2 separate regions of the Homo sapiens genome follow, and region 2 is linked to region 1. Evidence: fine-mapped expression QTL. Tissue or cell type: whole blood. Region 1 holds a variant in brackets; the other region holds the start of a gene. All regions are shown on one strand. Distances are between the middles of the regions.

What was found. PIP is the estimated chance that this variant, and not a neighbour inherited with it, causes the effect.
Region 2: NMRK1 starts here. The variant in region 1 is fine-mapped to the expression of NMRK1 in whole blood (INTERVAL, PIP above 0.99).

What each region holds. Positions count from the first base shown.
Region 1 is chr9:75,056,367-75,067,443 of GRCh38, forward strand. NMRK1 (nicotinamide riboside kinase 1) reads right to left here. Exons shown (of 9, transcript NM_017881.3): 8 at 10,391-10,474; 9 at 4,211-5,201. The coding sequence ends at 5,182. Among named protein-coding and RNA genes, the nearest start is that of NMRK1, 26 kb to the right of the region's middle. The variant A/G (reference allele first, on the strand shown) is at 4,996.
Region 2 is chr9:75,082,307-75,091,421 of GRCh38, forward strand. NMRK1 (nicotinamide riboside kinase 1) reads right to left here and starts at 5,849. Exons shown (of 9, transcript NM_017881.3): 1 at 5,702-5,849; 2 at 781-844. The coding sequence starts at 809. OSTF1 (osteoclast stimulating factor 1) reads left to right here and starts at 6,208. Exons shown (of 10, transcript NM_012383.5): 1 at 6,208-6,420. The coding sequence starts at 6,387. RefSeq lists silencers at 5,719-6,318, 6,509-6,598.

The sequences.
Region 1 (11,077 bases):
AGTTAATTTAATATCTATATGAACAATGCTGATGACTGGCTTGCTGTTAATAAATACGTGGGTAAATTCCTGTTCGTGGCTCTCAGCTCTGAAGGCTGTGAGACCTCTGATTTCCCACTGCACACCTCTATATTTCTATATGTGTGTCTTTAATTCCTCTAGCACCGCTGGGTTAGGGTCTCCCTGACCGAGCTGGTCTCGGCACTTTGTCTAAAATGAAAAATGTATGTGTGCATGCTTGTATGATGTCAGGATTGTGGACTTGTCCTGTCACCAGGTAGTTGCATGGTGTTGGACAGCTTTAGTTTCAATTTCAATACTAAGATATAGTGTTGGACTAATACCTCAACATTTTGTGACTGTCATATATCACAAGCATATACTTAAAAGATAAACCATTTGGCTTGAATCTCATCCTTTAGTGTAATGGTCTGTGCATCTTTCAAACCTTTGAAATCGAACTCATGTTTAATTTAATACTAAACACAATGAAGCCTTCCTACAGCAAACTCATCTTAAAGGGACTGGGGTTATTTATGCACAGAAAGTGAAGACTTCAGCACATGTGCTCCTTGTCAAATATGTATTGTATCTTTCTAAATAGATAACAGTACCACCATTAACTCCTGTAATAAAGAGTAACTGTAATGTGAATCAGTGCATACAGAAATGAAGCACTGGTATTCTTATTTCAAATTCCTATTTATTTCTCACTGATACTAGTGAGCAAAAATATACTTATTTCTTCCCAAAATTACTGGAATGTTTTCCTTTTTGATGCATTTTTTTCTCGCAAGATATATTTTCTCTGACCTTCATATGCTGAAATGGGGAGAAAACTGATGATTCTCAATTAGCAGGGCCGTGCCTCTGCAGTGGGAAGGGGGAGAAGAGGGCATCTCAGAAATTCTTAGAAGTGAAGTTTAATAATCATATCTATACTCTATTTTTATCCTAATAAAATAAAACAAAATTCTCCTAATGTATTAATAACACAAATTACAGCAACCCAAACTTGATAAAATCATGGCCAGGGAAGTTATGCAGAAAAAGGCCGTGGTAGGCATCTTCAGTGGCTTTCCTATTTCCTCACTAAAAGATCCTTGATGTTGATCAGTGGCAACATCCCAAGGCAGAGTCACAATTGGTCTGAAACTATCATGACATCTTCCCAGCCTCCCTTGCAGGGAGAAGTGACTATATGACCCAATTCTGATGGGAAATGAGGATAGAGAGGTACACAGAAGCCAGATCAGAGAAAGCCTTGGATGCCACATTAAAATATTTGAACTTTATCCTTATTCTACCCTACACCCATTCTAAATACTGTTGATATCCCTTATCTTAAAAAGAGAAAACCAAAACTTTAAATAGCTTGATTGAACTCATAGCTACTGAGTGGATGAACTATAATTTGAGCCTGGGTTTTGTTTTTGTTTGTATTTTTTGTAGTGTGTGGGATCCAAAGAACTGTCTGGTCATCACCAAGTGAGTGCAAGCTAGTTAGAAATAAAGAAATAATGAGAGTTGACTGAGTCTGTAGAGAATGGTTAATGTAACAATATATTTTAAAGATTGAGAAAGTTGGCTGGGCATGGTGGCTCACGCCTCTAATTCCAGCACTTTGGGAGGCCAAGGCTGGCGGATCACTAGGTCAGGAGATCAAGACTATCCTGAAACCCTGTCTCTACCAAAAATGCAAAGACTAACTGGGCATGGTAGCATGCGCCTGTAGTTCCAGCTACTCAGGAGGCTGAGGTGGGAGAATCGCTTGAACCCGGGAGGCCGAGACTGCGGTGACCGAGATCGCACCACTGCACTCCAGCCTGGCAACAGAGTGAGACTGTCTCAAAGTTGGCTACATCCCTGGGATGCAAGGCTGGTTCAACATATGCAAATCAATGAACGTAATCCATCACATAAACACAACCAATGACAAAAACCACATGATTATCTCAATAGATGCAGAAAAGGCCTTCGACAAAATTCAACAGCCCTTCATGCTAAAAACTCTCAATAAACTAGGTATTGATGGAATGTATCTCAACATAATAAGAGCTATTTATGACAAACCCACAGCCAATATCATACTGAATGGGCAAAAACTGGAAGCATTCCCTTTGAATACCTGCACAAGACAAGGATGCCCTCTCTCACCACTCCTATTCAACATAGTGTTGGAAGTTCTGGCCAGGGCAATCAGGCAAGAGAAAGAAATAAAGGATATTCGATTAGAAAACGAGGAAGTCAAATTGTCCCTGTTTGCAGATGACATGACTGTATACTTAGAAAACCCCATTGTCTCAGCCCAAAATCTCCTTAAGCTGTTAAGAAACTTCAGCAAAGTCTCAGGATATAAAATCAATGTGCAAAAATCACAAGCATTCCTATACACCAATGACAAACAGAGAGCCAAATCATGTGTGAACTCCCATTCACACTTGCTTCAAAGAGAATAAAATACCTAGGAATCCAACTTACAAGGGATGTGAAGGACCTCTTCAAGGAGAACTACAAACCACTGCTTAACAAAATAAAAGAGGACACAAACAAATGGAAGAACATTCCATGCTCATTGATAGGAAGAATCAATATAGTGAAAATGGCCATACTGCCCAAGATAATTTATAGATTCAATGCTATCCCCATTAAGCTACCAATGACTTTCTTCACAGAATTGGAAAAAACTACTTTAAAGTTCATATGGAACCAAAAAAGAGCCCGCATCGCCAAGACAATCCTAAGCAAAAGGAAAAAAGCTGGAGGCAGCACGCCACCTGACTTCAAACTATTCTACAAAGCTACAGTAACCAAAACAGCATGGTACTGGTACCAAAACAGATATATAGACCAATGGAACAAAACAGAGGCCTCAGAAATAACACCACACATCTACAACCATCTGATCTTTGACAAACCTGACAAAAACAAGCAATGGGGAAAGGATTCCCCATTTATAAATGGTGCCAGGAAAAGTGGCTAGCCATATGTAGAATGCTGAAACTAGACCTCTTCCTTACACCTTATACAAAAATTAATTCAAGATGGATTAAAGACTTAAATGTTAGACCTAAAACCACAAAAATCCTAGAAGAAAACCTAGGCAATACCATTCAGGACATAAGCATGGGCAAGGACTTCATGACTAAAACATCAAAAGCAATGGCAACAAAAGCCAAAATAGACAAATGGGATCTAATTAAACTAAAGAGCTTCTGCATGGCAAAAGAAACTACCATCAGAGTGAACAGGCAACCTACAGAATGGGAGAAAATTTTTGCGATCTACTCATCTGACAAAGGGCTAATATCCAGAATCTACAAAGAACTCAAACAAATTTACAAGAGAAAAACAAACAACCCCATCAAAAAGTGGGCAAAGGATATGAACAGACACTTCTCAAAAGAAGACTTCTATGTAGCCAACAGACACATGAAAAAATGCTCATTATCACTGGTCATCAGAGAAATGCAAATCAAAACCACAATGAGATACCATCTCACACCAGTTAGAATGGTGATCATTAAAAAGTCAGGAAACAATAGATGCTGGATAGGATATGGAGAAATAGGAACACTTTTACACTGTTGGTGGGACTGTAAACTAGTTCAACCATTGTGGAAGACAGTGTGGTGATTCCTCAAGGATCTAGAACTAGAAATACCATTTGACCCAGTGATCCCATTACTGGGTATATACCCAAAGGATTATAAATCATGCTACTATAAAGACACATGCACATTTATGCTTATTGCGGCACTATTCACAATAGTAAAGACTTGGAACCAACCCAAATGTCCATCAATGATAGACTGGATTAAGAAAATGTGGCACATATACACAATGGAATACTATGCAGCCATAAAAAAGGATGAGTTCATGTCGTTTACAGGGACATGGATGAAGCTGGAAGCCATCATTCTCAGCAAACTATCACAAAGATAGAAAACCAAACATTGAATGTTCTCACTCATAGGTGGGAATTGAACAATGAGATCACTTGGATACAGGGCTGGGAACATCACACACCAGGGTCTGTCGGGGGTGGGGGGCTGGGGGAGGGATAGCATTAGGAGAAATACCTAATGCAAATGATGAGTTGATGGGTGCAGCAAACCAACATGGCACATGCATAACTATGTATCAAACCTGCACATGGTACACATGTACCCTAGAACTTAAAGTATATATAAAAAAAAGATTGAGATGGTTGTGTGTAATCTTTTTATTAATAAGCAAAAGATTGTTCAGTACATAATTTAAATTCCAGCATTGAAAGCAGCCTCAAGAGATCACACAATTCAGATCTCCTTCTGTGCTTTCCAAAGATAGGTCCCCTGGATTCCACATGATTGAAGTAATTGCTTATTTCTGTGATTTTAGACCACTGGTTTGACAAAAACAAAATGAACCACGAGGGGGGAGAAAGAAACCAGAAACCCTATTTGTAACAAAGTCTCAACAATGAGATACAATGGTATTAGATACACGCCAACACACACACACACACACACACACACACACACACACACTCAACAAAATACACAAATAATCCTAGATCTTGTAGCGAATTGTTGATTTATTCATTGTGACTGCAGCTCCTAGTAATGCTATTATTTGCAGGTGGTGAGTGTTGGTATGGGATGGTATGGAGCAACATTTTCCAAATTGTGGTTGTGATCAATATGTTTTTTATAATTAAAGACGGAAAAACATCACAGTGCATAATATATAAGGTCAATGTCTTGTGATACTTGATGTATGTATGTATCACACACACACATACACACCTACACACAAATACATAAACATACACAATGAATTCCACAGATATTGGATTGTGATGTAATCTTTATTTCTTACTCTGAGCTCCAGTTAGAAAAGTTTGACAATCATTGTTATAGAGCTATGTTCAGAAAGTGGAGACTTTCTGACTCACTGTGAGCTCTGCTGTATCTATGCGCTCCCTGGAGAGGGAGCAACTTGCTAAGGTAC[A/G]GTCCTGTCCATTGGCATGGATATTTATTGTTCCACATGTTGGGAAAACCATGTGCAATAAAAATCAAACATATGAAACAATGGCTGTCATTGTACCACAGTATACATTGTATCTTGGTGAAGGTTCTTAAATTACTCCTTGGAGTTTCCTAATTCACTTCAGGAAGGATTTGTTGTGTTCCGTCTTTATGCTGTCACTTGCAAACCTTGGGAATAAACATAAAAAGAAATTAATGGAGAATTCCAATTCTCATTTTATTAAATCTTTACATCAACAACAGTAAATCTAAGGATGTTTAAATTAGAGGGATTCTGGAGCCAAAAATGCTGGTTTCCTGTAAAGAACTAAATTGAGTCCAAGTCCCATTCTTTTAATCCCTGCATTAAATTTGAAGCATACCTTAAAATATCAGATAGATATCCAATATCACTTGTAGTTCGTATAGTAATCCTTGACTTCAGAGAATGATATAGTTTGAAGACTAGAATAAAACCACAAAGGGTAGTTGTCTGCAGTATAATCCTTGTTTTGGAGTGTTATCCTTGATGTGGGGAAAGTATTGTTACTTTAATCCCTTTTCTTAAACGAAGGAAGCCCAGTGGAATACTTGATTTGGCATAGAAATTCAATGATAAACCTACCACATTCTTATTACACAGCTGATGTTGCAAAGCACACATTTTTTGGGTAGTATTTCATTTTTGAAATATGTAAAATGTAAAAATGATTACATCCTTTGACTACATAAGTGACACTTCTGGGAATTTACTCCAGGGATATAATTCAAAAAGAAGACAACCAACAAAGAGTAGGTGTAGATATTTTTTATGGCATGTGATATATCCATGTGAAACACTTGTAACAACAGTAAATATCCAACAATTGGGAAATGGTTAAGTGATCTTATGTTAATTTGGACTACTGTACCAGATAATTATACTATAATTTTATAATGAGATTATATTTTATATTTAATGAGAAAAATACAAACATCTGATAATTAAATTTTATTTTGCAACTTCTTATTCTTTTGATTTGGAACTAGACATGTGACATGTTTCTTCTGTACTAAAGGGTCAATGTCAAGTCTTACATTTCTCTTCAGTGTACAAAACAGAACTCAGCCTTGATTTTTTTTTTAACTGGAAGAGCTACTTAGTTTCATTATATAATGAAATCTATAAAGCTGCATAAATATTAAATACTAATTTAAAAACAGAGATAAGCATGGCTGATTAACTACACTGTCCTTGCAGTCTTGTAAAAGACAGATTGATGTGAACAGCAAAAAGACTGGATGTGTACTCATTAAAATGTTAACACTAATGATTGGAGGGAACACAGGTAATTACTTCCTCCCTTTTGCTTTCTATTAAACATTTAAAAAGGCTGAGCATGGTGGCTGATGCCTGTAATCCCAGCACTATGGGAGGCCAAGGCAGACGGATTACCTGAGGTCAGGAGTTTGAGACCAGCCTGATCAACATAGCAAAACCCCGTCTTAACTAAAAATACAAAAATTAGCAGGGCGTGGTAGTGCGTACCTGTAATCCCAGCTACTTGGGAGGCTGAGGTAGGAGATCACCTGAACCCAGAAGGTGGAGGTTGCAGTGAGCTGAGATCGTGCCACTGCACTCCATCCTGGGCGACAGAACAACTCCATATTGGCTGGGCACAGTGGTTCACACCTGTAATCCCAGCATTTTGGGAGGCCGAGGCGGGCGGAGGTCAGGAGATTGAGATCACCCTGGCTAACATGGTGAAACCCCGTCTCTACTAAAAAAATATAAAAAATTAGCCAGGTGTGATGGCTGGCACCTGTGGTCTCAGTTACTCGGGAGGCTGAGGCAGGAGAATGGTGTGAACCCAGGAGGCGGAGCTTGCAGTGAGCCGAAATTGTGCCACTGCACTCCAGCCTGGGCGACAGAGCGAGACTCCATCTCAAAAAAAAAAAAAAAGAAAGAAAAAAAGACTCCATATGAGAAAAATAAAAAATAAAAATAAATAAAACAAAAAATAAAAAACCTTAAAAATAATGTTTTTATAATGAGGTGAAAATAAATGTTTTTAAAGGGAGTTTGAATGTTCCTGGTGGCTAGACTACTTTGTTTTAGTAAGAATAAGGAAATAATTAAATTTTGCCTCATACTTTGGATTTAAATAAGGATTAAATTAAATGTGTAACTCCATTCTCTTACTCTGTTGGATAATTTATTGTTTCATTAACAATTAAATTCAGTCTTTCTTGTTTCCCCTTCATTATTATTACCTTATCATAATTATGATTTTATGTACTTAAGACTGAAAAATTAGCTAAACAAGTTTATGAGATGTGAGAAAAAAAACCCTGAAGATTAGTCACTAGAAACACTGAAAGGCCTCCCCAGCTAGCTCAGTGTGTGTCATACTCAGGGTTAAACCAGGCTATGCTGAGGGTACCTTCAGGAAAGCTTTGCCAGGATACTGTGGATGGAAGAAATAGGAAAGGTGATAGGTTACTAGAAATAAAACAGTAACTTATTTATGTAACTGAGAAAAACCAGCATAAATGTTGGAGGTAAGAAAAGCTGATGTATTTCTGTTTTTATCCCTCTTTTAAGTTTTTTTTTTAAACTTTAACTAATATCTAGAAGCCTCAAATGGCATAGCTAAATACTTTCCTGCCTGCCTCTAGGATGTAGGGAAGGAAGGAGGGGCGTCACAACACAGGGAAATGCACTTTCTTGTGAGCTAGCAGCACCTGTCAAAACATGTCAGCTGTTCTTGGGCTTTGGAACAGATGGTGAAGACTGAATTTGGAATGGAGCTGGTTGCAATTTACCTGAGCTACATGACAAAGGCTACTTTCATCTTTATCAGTAGGTAGATCATAAGGCCAAACTCCAGTGTATCACTTAGTCATAAAGGAAAGCTGGACCCAAGCACTGGCCATTGCTGAGAAGACAAAGAGCTATAGGTGTCCAACAGCTGAAACACTCCTGGAAGTGCCTCATTAGGGACAGAAAGGGGAGCCAATAACTCTCAGAGAAGTGGCTCTGGCTCATGTGCTATCATTTATGAAGGCTGAGCCCCTCCCTTCACCCCACACCCTCTATATCCACTCATGTTGGTGCTCTGAGATTCATTATGGAAGGCCTGACTTTCATCAAAGTAACAGATGGCAGGAGTGGGCGGGCATATCTGGCAAGGATTCTAAATTCTACTTGCAAGAAGAAAATTTAAAATGGTCCTGAAATTCCTTCAAATGGGTTCATGCCTATATGATGGGCTGATCCTGAAATCAACAATGTTTAGGATCAATGAGCTGCCTAGTTGGGCTCAGTCTCCTAGTCAAAGAGGAATTTATTGAGGATGTAGGTAGGAAATCTAATTCTTACTGAGGAAGGACAACATTTGGACTAGGGCAATTGCTTCTCACCAAAAAAAACATATAATATTCTTCACTGCTGGAGTGAGTCATACTGTCTTCTCTGAGCCAGCTGATGATTGCATTTTGCTGGTGTTAGCCATGGAAGTTCTTTTAATTCAAATAGTTCAAATATAACAACAGCTACATCTACAGTTTTGTCCCTTAAGCATGTTTTTTCGACTTTCTTCTTCTGGTTTCTACCTCCTGCCCTGCTTTCTCTTTGGGAAATTTTTGATTTTTTAATTTTTAGAAATAGGGCTGTCTGTCTCCCAGGGTGGAGTGCAATGGCACATTCATGGCTCACTGCAGCCTTGACTTCCTGGGCTAAAGCCATCCTCCCACCTCAATACCCTGAGTAGCTGAGATTATAGGCACGTGCCACTATGCCCAGCTAATTTTTTATTTTTATTTTTTTGAGACAGAGTCTCACTCTGTCACCAGACTGGAGTGCAGTGGCGTGCAATCTTAGCTCACTGCAATGTCTGCCCCCGGAGTTCAAGAGATTCCCCTGCCTCAGCCTCCCGGGTAGCTGGGACTGCAGGCGCGCACCACCACACCTGGCTAATTTTTTGTATTTTAGTAGAGACGGGGTTTCACCATGTTGGCCAGGATGGTCTGGATCTCCTGACCATCATGATCTGTCTGCCTCGGCCTCCCAAAGTGCTGGGATTACAGATGTGAGCCACTGTGCTTGGTAGCTAATTTTTAAAAAATTTTAATTTTTGTAGAAATGGAGTCCCTCTCACTATGTTGCTCAGGCTGGTCTTGAACTCCTGGCCCCAAGCAATCCTCCCAATTTAGCCTCCCAAAGTGCTGGGATTATAAACGTGAGCCATTGCAACTGGCCAGAGAAATTTTTAAAATCAGAAGGTGTTAGGTGGGGTATTCAATTACAAGATGGGTTATGTGATGTAGGCCTGGCCAATCAGAGTATGCCATCTCCCTGGCCATAGTGATTGGTTTGGCAAGTCATGTGATCCAGCAGGACCAATCATCTGGGCTACAACAGAACATTGCTTTTTAGAAAACTATTTAAAATAAAGAATTTCAAATTTATGCAAAAGAAGTGAGAATAAATATGAACCTCCTTGTACTCAATATCCAGCTCCAACATTTATCAACTCGTTGTCAAATCTTGAAAAAGATATCTTTTTACCCTGGGACTGATGGACCTAGGAGGATGTTGTTGTCAACAGACATCAGGTCAGTGGAGAGCCTGACTTCAAAATAAACCCTAAATAGAAAGTAGAATAGAAGCAGAGTCCTGAGGACCTTATTTGAGTTCCTTAACCCATTAATGTTGGAGGTTGCAAATTATTTTTGTGAAAAACGAGACCTTGGTGATGACCTTCAGCAGTAGGATATAAATAACTCCTACAAGCTTAGAGTTCCAACAATGGAACACTAGGCATAAATGAGTTAATCCAGCTGAGCCTGAAGCCACCATTACCCCTGTACTGTCTTTCTGCTGTAGCCATATTTAGGCAGATCCCTGTCACTTGCAAACAGTGCCGTCCAATATGAAAACCTTAAACAAACACTTCATAATACTTTTTAAAATCTTTTGTTTATCTTTGAGGTATTTGGAAAGTAGAAATTTTACAGAAAGTCTTTAAGGGAATAAAAGAAAAGGGGAGCTCTGGACATACTAAAAAAAATCATCAGCATTTTAATTATACTGTGCCCAAAGGATACTTCCAGTCCCATTTGGTACAGCCATCTACTAAAAGTTTTAAAGTAAATCACATAAATAGCATTAAGAGATGTAACAAAGGGTACATGGTTTTACCCCTAAAAACAGACAAAATAATTGAGTCTCCAAACCCCCCCCCAGAATTTCTGATTCTGAATTATCCTCAAAGCAAAGAATGGATGAGCACAATCACTCCTACACTAGCATTCTGGTATTCCATTCTTTCATATGTAATGAATGATTTTCCTGGCTGTTTCTCCTCTACCATCCACTTTGTTAGCACAATACTTACACTTTTGCTTTGCTAGTTCTTGTATTAGATCTTCATATACTTGCAAAAAGAGGTCCTCTTCAGATTTTGTTCCATCCAGGTACACTACGAAGGGGAAAAGAGAGCAGTTCAAATGCTAACAGGCTTATTAATATACAATGTTTACTTTGACACCCAACATCTCTTGTAAATGCCAATAGGTTTAACCAAGGCACCCAGGACCATAACTTAAAAGGAAATTAATAGTGATTAAAGAAAGAAATAGATGCTAGCCAGCTATAATAGGTCAAAAATATTGGATTGTTACAGATAAATCCACACTGGCTTATGTGAAAATTATTTAATTAAAAGAGAAGAGAAAGAAAGAAGAAAGGAGGAAAGAAACAGAAGAAAGAAAGTGGTGTTGTGCATACGGCACTTTAGGTGCACTGAAGGTGTTCACCCAAAAGGGTCACTTAAGGAGTAATTCTTCAACATACTTATACATCAGGATCACCTGGGAAGCTTCTTAAACAATGCAGTGGTCTGGGATCTGCAACATATGTACAAACTCAGAATTCACCAGGCTCAGAAAATATGTATTGTGTGTGTGTGTATGTTTGTGTGTGTGTGTGTGTGTTTTCTGCTATCAGAGAAAAGACGTATTTTTAATAAAACTGGCATAAGCAGCTTTGGAGAAAAAGTAGAAGTTGTCTAGGTTAAAGGAAG
Region 2 (9,115 bases), 25 kb after region 1:
AGGCAAAGCAGAGTTCTAACATTTAGTTCACTCAATTTTACTTCTGATTGATGACTTACTATGGTAATGTAATACCATAACACAATGATTTCCCCAAAATTACAAACAAAGTAGTCTCAGATATTTTATTAATTGGGTCACAAACAATGTGAATATACTTAGAGTAAAGGTGAACATAATATGGTAGCAAAACAAATAATGTCATTTTCAGTTGATGTTGATGTTTTATTTGCATGCCTGCCTATGGCACCACAGGTAGGATGACCATATAATTTAGAACATGTTTGAGAGAAAGAGAGGTGCATCCAGGGCCACAAGGATTAGCTTGGGCAACATGGGACATAAGGCCACCCAAAACATGGGGGAAAGGAATGGAGGTGAAGGTGTTCTGTATACCAAATGTCTGAAGCTGGGCACAGCTGGAAAGAAACTAAGTTTTCTCCTCCATCGTGATGAAGGAGAATGATATGGGGAATGATAAATCATCCTGAATGAAAGCAGTGCCCAATCAGACCTTGTCTCTGGTGTTAGCTCCACAAAATAAATGGGAAAGTGGGTAAATGTGGTTGACTGACTCTTCTGTTTCTCTGTTTATAGAAAACTCTTCCATCTCTTGTTGGCATTTATGAAGCCAGTGCTCCACTGATATTCCACAGTGGTCTGCTCTTCCCCAGGACTCTGGAATCCTCACTGCTTCTCCGTCCCCCACTCCATCCACACAGAAACACCATTTGGACATCCTCAGTATCTTAAAGAGCTGTTTGTAGCAAAATTACTCACCCACTGATTCCAATGATAAATGTTTTCATAATTAGCTTTGAAAATCACAGCTTCCTAATATTTCCTAAAAGTAAAAAAACAAACAAACAAATCAAATGCATTTCATTTAGATGTCTAGGGAGATAAAAGAATCCTAAATTAGGAGCACCAGCTGAGAGGGGAGGATGACAGTGACCTTTCAGCCCAGCCCCGCATTATCCACATTCCCGCCGCACTGGCTTCCCCTGCTACCACTGAGTGCCAACCACTGGGGTGTGCTCAGGACTGTCAAACAGTTCAACGTCAGGTGACCTGCCGGAGCACTCCCCCTTGAACGTCTGTTTTCTGGGCGTGGAAGAACTGCTAGGCCACAGCGTGGTATATGAAGTTTCATCCTCTCCTTAGCCAGGTTGCCTTCCACCTTCACGATTCAGTCGCCTGGGTATGACTCATTATCAGTGAGGGAGGGACCCCTGTGGGCTGGCCTCTTTCTCCCCTCATGAGACAAGGAAAAAGTCACTGCTGACCAGAGGCAAAAAGAAGCTAATGCCGTTTAAAGATACTGCCCTTATGAGACAAGAAGAAAGTTACTGCTGGCCAGAGGCAAAATGAAGCTAATGCCGTTTAAAGACACTATTTCTTCACCCAAAAGCCTAGGTCTTGGGCCTGGCTAGGTACATTTTTTTTGGAAACAGGCCAGACAGTAAATATTTGACACTATGTGGGCCAAGAGGCAAAATCTAGGTTGTTATGTATGGACTTATATAACAAGAGAAAAAACATTTTCACAATTTTTTTTGATGAAATTCAACATATAATCATAATTTTTTTAACAGGTCTACTAATGACAAGAATGAAATTCCCTTTTATTGGGCTATCATTTCTCTTAATTGGATTTCTGTTGTGCTTTCTACATGAAACTGCAAATGTTCAGGCAGAGGGCCAAGTTAAGCCACCGGCCACTGTTTTGTGGATTTTTGGTTTAGGGGATGGAGGGCAGTTTCATACATGCCTCCCTAACGTTCACTAAAGTAGTCCTTGGTTATTACAATGGGCCATTTTTCTCACTAAGTGAAAAGGTGAAGCACAGCTGGAGGGAATCTTAGAATAGTGGCTCCTGAAGGTCATCCCTGAAGGCCACTCTTCTTCCTTCCTATCTGCTCAGGGGGGTTGCCAGGGACCTAGGCCGTGTAGCCAGGGGCAAGCGGCTGCCTGCCAAGCTGGAGGCTCCCAGCAATGCTCCAGTTTCTATGATCTGTGTCCACACTCTCCCTGGGGAGGGGTTATGCAGAAAAAAGCCTGGTGGGAAGAGGGCTATTGTTGTCTGACTTCTTGGCTTATCTAAATATCCCACATTGAGTACAATTGCTTAAGACTGGGGTCCACTTCCATTAACAAGTCTATGTGAGACAAGAATCAATAATGACTGTGATAAAATAGCAGCAGGGCACTGTGGCTCATGCCTATAATCCCAGCACTTTGGGAGGCCAAGGCAGGCGGATTGCTTGAGCTCAGGAGGTTGAGACCAGCCTGGGCAACATGGCAAAACGCTACCTCTACCAAAAATACAAAAGATTATCCAGGCATGGTGGCATGCTCCTGTAGTCCCAGCTACTTCGGAGGCTGAGGTGGGAGGATTGCTTGAGCCTACAAGGTGGGGGTAGCAGTGAGTGGAGATTGAGCCGCTGCACTCCAGCCTGGGTGGCAGAGTGAGGCCCTGTCTTAAAAAATAAAATAAAATAGCAGACAAGTTGCATATTTAAGTTTCATCCAGAGTTATGTTGTTGAATACACATCTCCATCCAAATTTACAAGATGTATCGAGGGAATGACTGCATACAATGAATATTGTAAAATACATTTTTATGTTGTAATTTTTCTGCTTTTGAATTTTATTTTACCCTATTCTTATTTTTTTGGTATGTCGGTTCAATGCTGCCAATTAGCCTTTTTTTGGGAAGGGAGAGGCTGCTCTTTATCTCACTTTTGTGGTGATAAATGTTCTTTCTCTTACAAAACTATGTTGTCAGAAGATGTTAGTAGAGTGATATCCTCACTTTACCAAATAAAATAAAAATTCATAAAACCTTGTCATTCCTTGCCCCCATTATTTTTGGATAGCTCGCTGAAGCATAAATTCTCAAACTTGGAGAAGTATAGCTTTAGCGATTACTTGGTCTACCCCTTCATTTTGCATAAGTGGAAACTGGCTCAGACAATAGAGCAATTTGCCTAAGGTCACACAGACAGTAAGTGGAAAAGCCAGATATTAAACTAAACCAATTGAGCTGACTTCTTTCTATCACTCCAAGCTGCTAAAAAGCACTTTATTACTAACAGCAAAGAAAGGGTGTTAGGTATGTGCTAGCTTAATTGTCAGGCTCTGATGTATAATTGATGTCATTCTTACTGATGTATTATTGATGGGGCATCTATTTGCTGTGCACACAGAATGGAAAGGACTACTGGTCCCCGTCCTAAACTGCCACATCTGTGGTTACACGTGTGACCATTGCATCAATTACATGGCATGTAAATAACAAGTGAGCATGGTTGTGGCATGGGAAATAGGCTTGAGGGGGTTACTTGCATTCAGGAACCAGGAGTAAGATGGCATAAAAAACCTACTTATAAAATCTCTCAGATACAGTCAAATGTAAGTTTTTTTTTTTTTTTTTTTTTTTTTTTAACCAAAACAGGAACTCCCAGTTCTACATTAGTTAGCAGTCTGGGCCTGTCCAAGCCAGTGTTTGGGTAAATGCTGGGCATACCCTATCAGCTATGAGCAAGTGACAATGTGATGGGAAGGGTGGGTAACTGGAACATGCAGAGACAAGAGAGGCAACTGGGCTAAGTGACTAGGGCGGGGTGGGGGGTGGGCCTAGCAATCCCTGAAGGCATTTATTTCAAAAACAGTGTGGATGCACAGGGCAGCTTTAGGGGAGCTCCAAGTTCAGGCCTGGCACTGTCCACCTCCACATCACATTCTACTATTTCATTGCCTGTTGCCCCTATAAAAAAAATCACCAAGGCTGCAGTGAGCCATGACTGTGCCACTGCATTGCAGCCTTGGTGACACAGCGAGACCCTATCTTGAAAAAAACCAAAACAAACAGGCAAAAAACAACCCAAAAACTGCCTCCCATAAAACCAAAAACAAAACAAAAAATCAAATTTAAAAAGCTCGCAATTGAGTTGCCAGGCTTCATGAAGCAAATGCAAGCTTCGTACAAACTGTAAATCATGTGATGTGTCCAAAGAGTCATCATTTCAGGGCACGTCTATCACTAGAATCCACACCACCTTCAATCTCATGGAATATCTGTGTAGTTTATTTTCCCAGTGCGTGCAAGGCTTTCCTCAACAGCGGAGAGCTTTTGCATAGCAGGAGAACAAACTAGGATAGCCAAGAGCAAACCTGAAATGACTAATTTTATTTTTTACACTTTTTTTTAACCCTAAGTAAAATGTTGGGTTTTTTAAAATAATTCAGGTGTGTTTATTATGCTTAATTCATTTCACTACTAAACACTTGCCTTTTGGATTCTAAACTGCAGAATGGTCAGAAGTGGCATGTGCAGAATCAGCAGATTGTACGAACTCTCTAACGCAGCTCTCTAACGCAAATGATCTGAAAGACAGCTGACAAAGCTAAATGTGCTCTTCAAATGTATCTACAGGACAGTCTGATATTTTAAAAAGAGAAAAATGTTTCCAGGACTTCTTACTCTGTATTCTATCCAACAGCTATTTTGATTCTCTTCTTCCAGGAGATAGGGCAGTCTTTTCCTACTATTGTTTAAACTTTGCTCCCTTTTGGTAAACAAATCCCTCAAGGCTGGGTTTTTTTTTTTTTTTTAAGACAGAGTCTCGCTCTGTTGCCAGGCTGGAGTGCAGTGGCGCAATCTCGGCTTACTGCAACCTCCGCCTTCTGGGTTCAAGTGATTCTCCTGCCCCAGCCTCCCGAGTAGCTGGGACTACAGGCGTCTGCCACCACGCCCGGCTAATTTTTTGCAGTTTTAGTAGAGATCGGGTTTCACCAGGTTGGCCAAGATGGTCTTGATCTCTTGACCTCGTGATCCACCCGCCTTGCCCTCCCAAAGTGCTGGGATTACAGACGTGAAGGGCTGGGGTTTTTGAAAACGCAATTCATGCCCCTCCCCCATTGGTTTCATTTATGTAGGTTCTTAGGTAAACAGTTTTTTCTTTCCCCAAATATACAATTAATTTACAATATTGACTGTTATTTTGAACTTATGCCATTGGCTTCCTTGTGTGCTCCAGTTCTTTCCTCCCACCGAAGATTCAATCCGATAGATCAGGGGTAGGAAAACTTTTTCTGTAAAGTGCCAGACAGGAAATGCTTTGGGCTTTGCCAGCTGCTACTCAACCCTGCTGGGTAATGCGAAAGCGGCCACAGAAAACACAGATGCAAATGAGCGTGACCGTGTTCCAGTAAAATTTTACGGACACTGAAATCGTAATTTCATGTAATTTTCACGTGTCACAAAGTATTATATTTCTTTTTATTTCTTTTCAGTCATTAAAAAAAGTAAAAAAAAAAAAAATTCTTAGCAGGCCTTACAGTAACAGGCAGCAGGCGGGCAGTAGGTCATCACCCCAACGCTAGAGGAATGAGACCATATCGATCCGCGAGGATCAAGTCCTGATCCTGTCCCTGGCGACTTCTCCAGGCTGCGCGGTCTCTTGGAGGCAGCGTTCCCATTTTCAGGATTATTCCGGGGCGCTAGAGCACCACGCCACCATGAGTACACGTCCTCCTCGGCAGGCCACCTATCAGCTCTGTGAGGGTGGCAAGAGTCCAGGCAAGGCTTTCAGGGCGCAACCAAGTCCCGGGCTCCAGCACAGAAACCCTCTGGAAACACCTCCAGGCCCCAGCAAGGCGGCGCGGCGCGGCAGGGGCGAGCAGGTACGCACTCACCTGGCGCCAGTTCGAGTCCTCCCAAACACAGCGGCAGAGGCGACAGCCAAGCGCGCGCCTGTACCCAGTGCGCCGCTACCCGCAGCTCGCTCCCCGAGAGGCCCACAGCCCCTTTCCCCACGCTCCTCCTGGGTTAGAGGGATGCCAGGTAGGGGCGGTCACCAGAGGCCCCTTTTCTCTACTCTCGGCGCCGGGTTCCAGCCCCCGTTGGGGCGGGGCGGGGCGGGGCGGGGCTCCGGCTAGCTTGGCCTCTTCCGCGCGCCCCTGCGCAGCTCCGGCCCTTCCCTATCGGGAGCGCGCGCGGCCCGCGGCACTGCACTGGCGCACGCCCGCTTCGCCCTCGCTCGGCTCCGGCTGGTTCCGCCGCCGTGCGCGCCGCCCGCGCTCCTGCTGCGGCGAAGCTGCCAGCCCGGGAGCCAATTAGCGCTCGGCTAGGCGGGGTCCACTTCCTCGTCGGCCCGGCGCGCGCTCTGGACTGCTCCGGCGGCCGCGGGGCGGGGCGGAGCACTCGGCGGAGCCGCTCTGCCTGCGTCCGCTCTTCCCGCAGCCAAGGGTGGGCGCCGGTCCTAGGAGGCGCACGGTTGTAAGCCAGACAAAAAGAACTGGGGTGCCCGGAGTGCCAGGTGGCGGGCAAGCGGTGGGCTTTTCGGCGGGGTCTTTAGGATTTGCAGCTCCAGGAAGCGAGATGTCGAAGCCGCCACCCAAACCAGTCAAACCAGGTGAGGGAGGTAAGGTAGGCGCTTGCCAGGTCCTGCGACCGCCGCGGTGCCGGCGCCTCCTCTGCAGCTTGGCAGGGAGGACCCGGCGCGCACCCGGCCCCGAGCCTGGCTTCCGAGATCGGCCCCACCGGGATGGGCGCTCTTAGTTTTGCGTTCGCTGTTACGGAGGAGGGATCGATTTTGATAGCAAGAGGATTTCGAGGATTAATATATATATATATATTTAAAGGGGAGTAGCCCTCACTTTTGCTACGTTGTCATTCGCTGAAACTTTCAGAGGGTGTGATGGCAACGTCCCATGGAAGTTTTCCGGAAAGACAGGGCCATTGATCTCCCTTTAAAAAATGTCATGAAATGATCTTTAGCCACTTCCTCTTTTCTCAGTGTTTGTCACTGTCAAGTTAGGGTTCCTGACCGGCCAGAGCGAACGGGAAGTGCAATCCCTGCAGGGTGGGGTGGGCGAGCGAGCCTCCCTCGGGACTTAAGCGTGGAGCAGCGTTTGAAATTGACCTCGGGATCTTGGGAAGAGCGTTTAGAAAAAAACCCTATACTCGCGCTCCTGGTGGAAAGAATCTAGGATGCGGCAGTGATCTCAGCTGTTGCTATTTGGAAGTGTCATTTTATCATCTCCTTTGCCTTTGCTCTCCCAAAGACGTTGGCGTGCTAAACCTGAGAGGGCTGAGATTACTAAATTCCTCAAAGCAGTTTTCTGGGCGGATTGTCCTTGTTCATTTTTGCTCTGTTCTTAGAATATTTTCTGTGATATGCAGAAATAAGATAATTGTAAAAGAAACTGACGTATTTTAATTAAAAGTTGTAACATACTGTTCCGCTCATTCATTTGGGTAGGTAATTAGAAAGGACTGACGTATTTCAATACTTTAACAACTCTTACGTGCATTCATTTGGGTAGGTAATTAAGGGAAATACAGGAAATGGAAGATAAATGGCTCCGATGTATTCTTGGGTTTTTTCTTCCCATAGTGTAATTTCGGTATAGCGAAATGCTGAAATTTAATCCATTTACGTCAAATTTTGAAGTAACTTTCTTTGCAAGAGATGAGTTTCAGTGATTACTTTTTTCCTTGATTTTCCTAAACTCTATAGCTTTCATACTTATCTAGTTTTGTTTCTTTGCGTTCCTGCAGTTGGAGTATGAAGTCCCTTTATTTGATAATCATGTACGTACGTATGTGGAATAGTGCTTCACTGAGGACTGACATCTTGGTGGGCTGAGTGTGAAGGAAGTTGCTGAGACTGGCTCTGCCCTGGGCAAAGATGGGGCACAGCTAGAGTTGGGTTCTGCATTGCATTAGATGTGGAATCTGATGAGAAATTTCCATTTTAAGTGCATATGTATGAGGTAGCTTTCTAAACTCAGGTGCAAATCAGGACCTTAAGTATCTAACAGTGCAGAGTTGTTCTTTGATAGCTAAACAATATTTTATTTATCTTATTTTTTTCTGATCACCTGCTGCCAGTTGAAATACGTTAAAGAATGCCCTTTTTAAAAATCTCTTCATGCGTATTAAATGCTGTCTATATTGCAAATGGAGGGACATTGACAGGTGTGTGTGTGTGTGTGTGTGTGTGTGTGTGTGTGTACACAGTAATGTATACATGTGGGTTCATTCACACTTGGGGGTTTAAGGGTCATCCTGTTACTAATTGTGGATACATTCCCAGGAACCTCCTTTCTCCTTCACATCAGAAAGCTTATGGTTAAACATGACAGGTGTTTAGAGGGAACTTTGCATTTTATTTTATTTTAATTTGTTTTATCTGGTCCTTGATTCAGGATAAAGGGAATTTTGAATCAACATTAATTTACAAATGAGATCCAGACACAAAGTTACCATAGAAATGGGTTTGCCAGTTTAGTAATTTACAGTGAGAAACATTACTGCCAATCAGAGTTGAAACTTTGTGTGGGCTAGCTTAGTTGAAGAAAAAAAAAAAGCGATGGCCAGGAGCAGTGGGCCATGCCTGTAATCCTAGCACTTTATGAGGCTGAGGTGGGAGGATTGCTTGAGGCTAGGAGTTTGAGACTAGCCTGGGCAACATAGCAAGACCCCGTCTCAACAGAGTACAAAAAACAAAAACAGAAATGTCCTATCGTAGTACTGTCCCACATTTACTGTGTGTTAGGCAATGGTATAGTCACTTTACACGTGTTAACACATTTGCTGCTCTCAACAATCTTATGAGATCAGTACCATTATATTGTTCCTGTTGCACAGATGGGGAAATAAAGATGCGCAGAAATGTTATTTAACTTGTCTAAAGTCAACAGTTAGAGTGGGGGATGTAGCAGGCAGTATTAAAACCCAGGTAGTCTGGCTTTGAAGTCTGCACTTTTTTTTTTTTTTTTTTTTTTGAGACAGACTCTCGCTCTGTTGCCCAGGCTGGAGTGCAGTGGCGCGATCTCGGCTCACTGCAACCTCCGCCTCTCGGGATCAAGCAATTCTCTGCCTCAGCCTCCCGAGCAGCTGGGATTACAGGCAGCCCGCCACCATGCCCGGCTAATTTTTTTTTTGTATTTTTAGTAGAGACAGGATCCAGGCTGGTCTTGAACTCCTGACCTTGTGATCCACCCTCCTTCGCTTCCCAAAGTGTGGGATCACTGTGCCTGGCCAAAGTCTGCACTCTTAACCATTTGCTATTCTGCCTTAAGTCATAGTGCTCCATTCACACT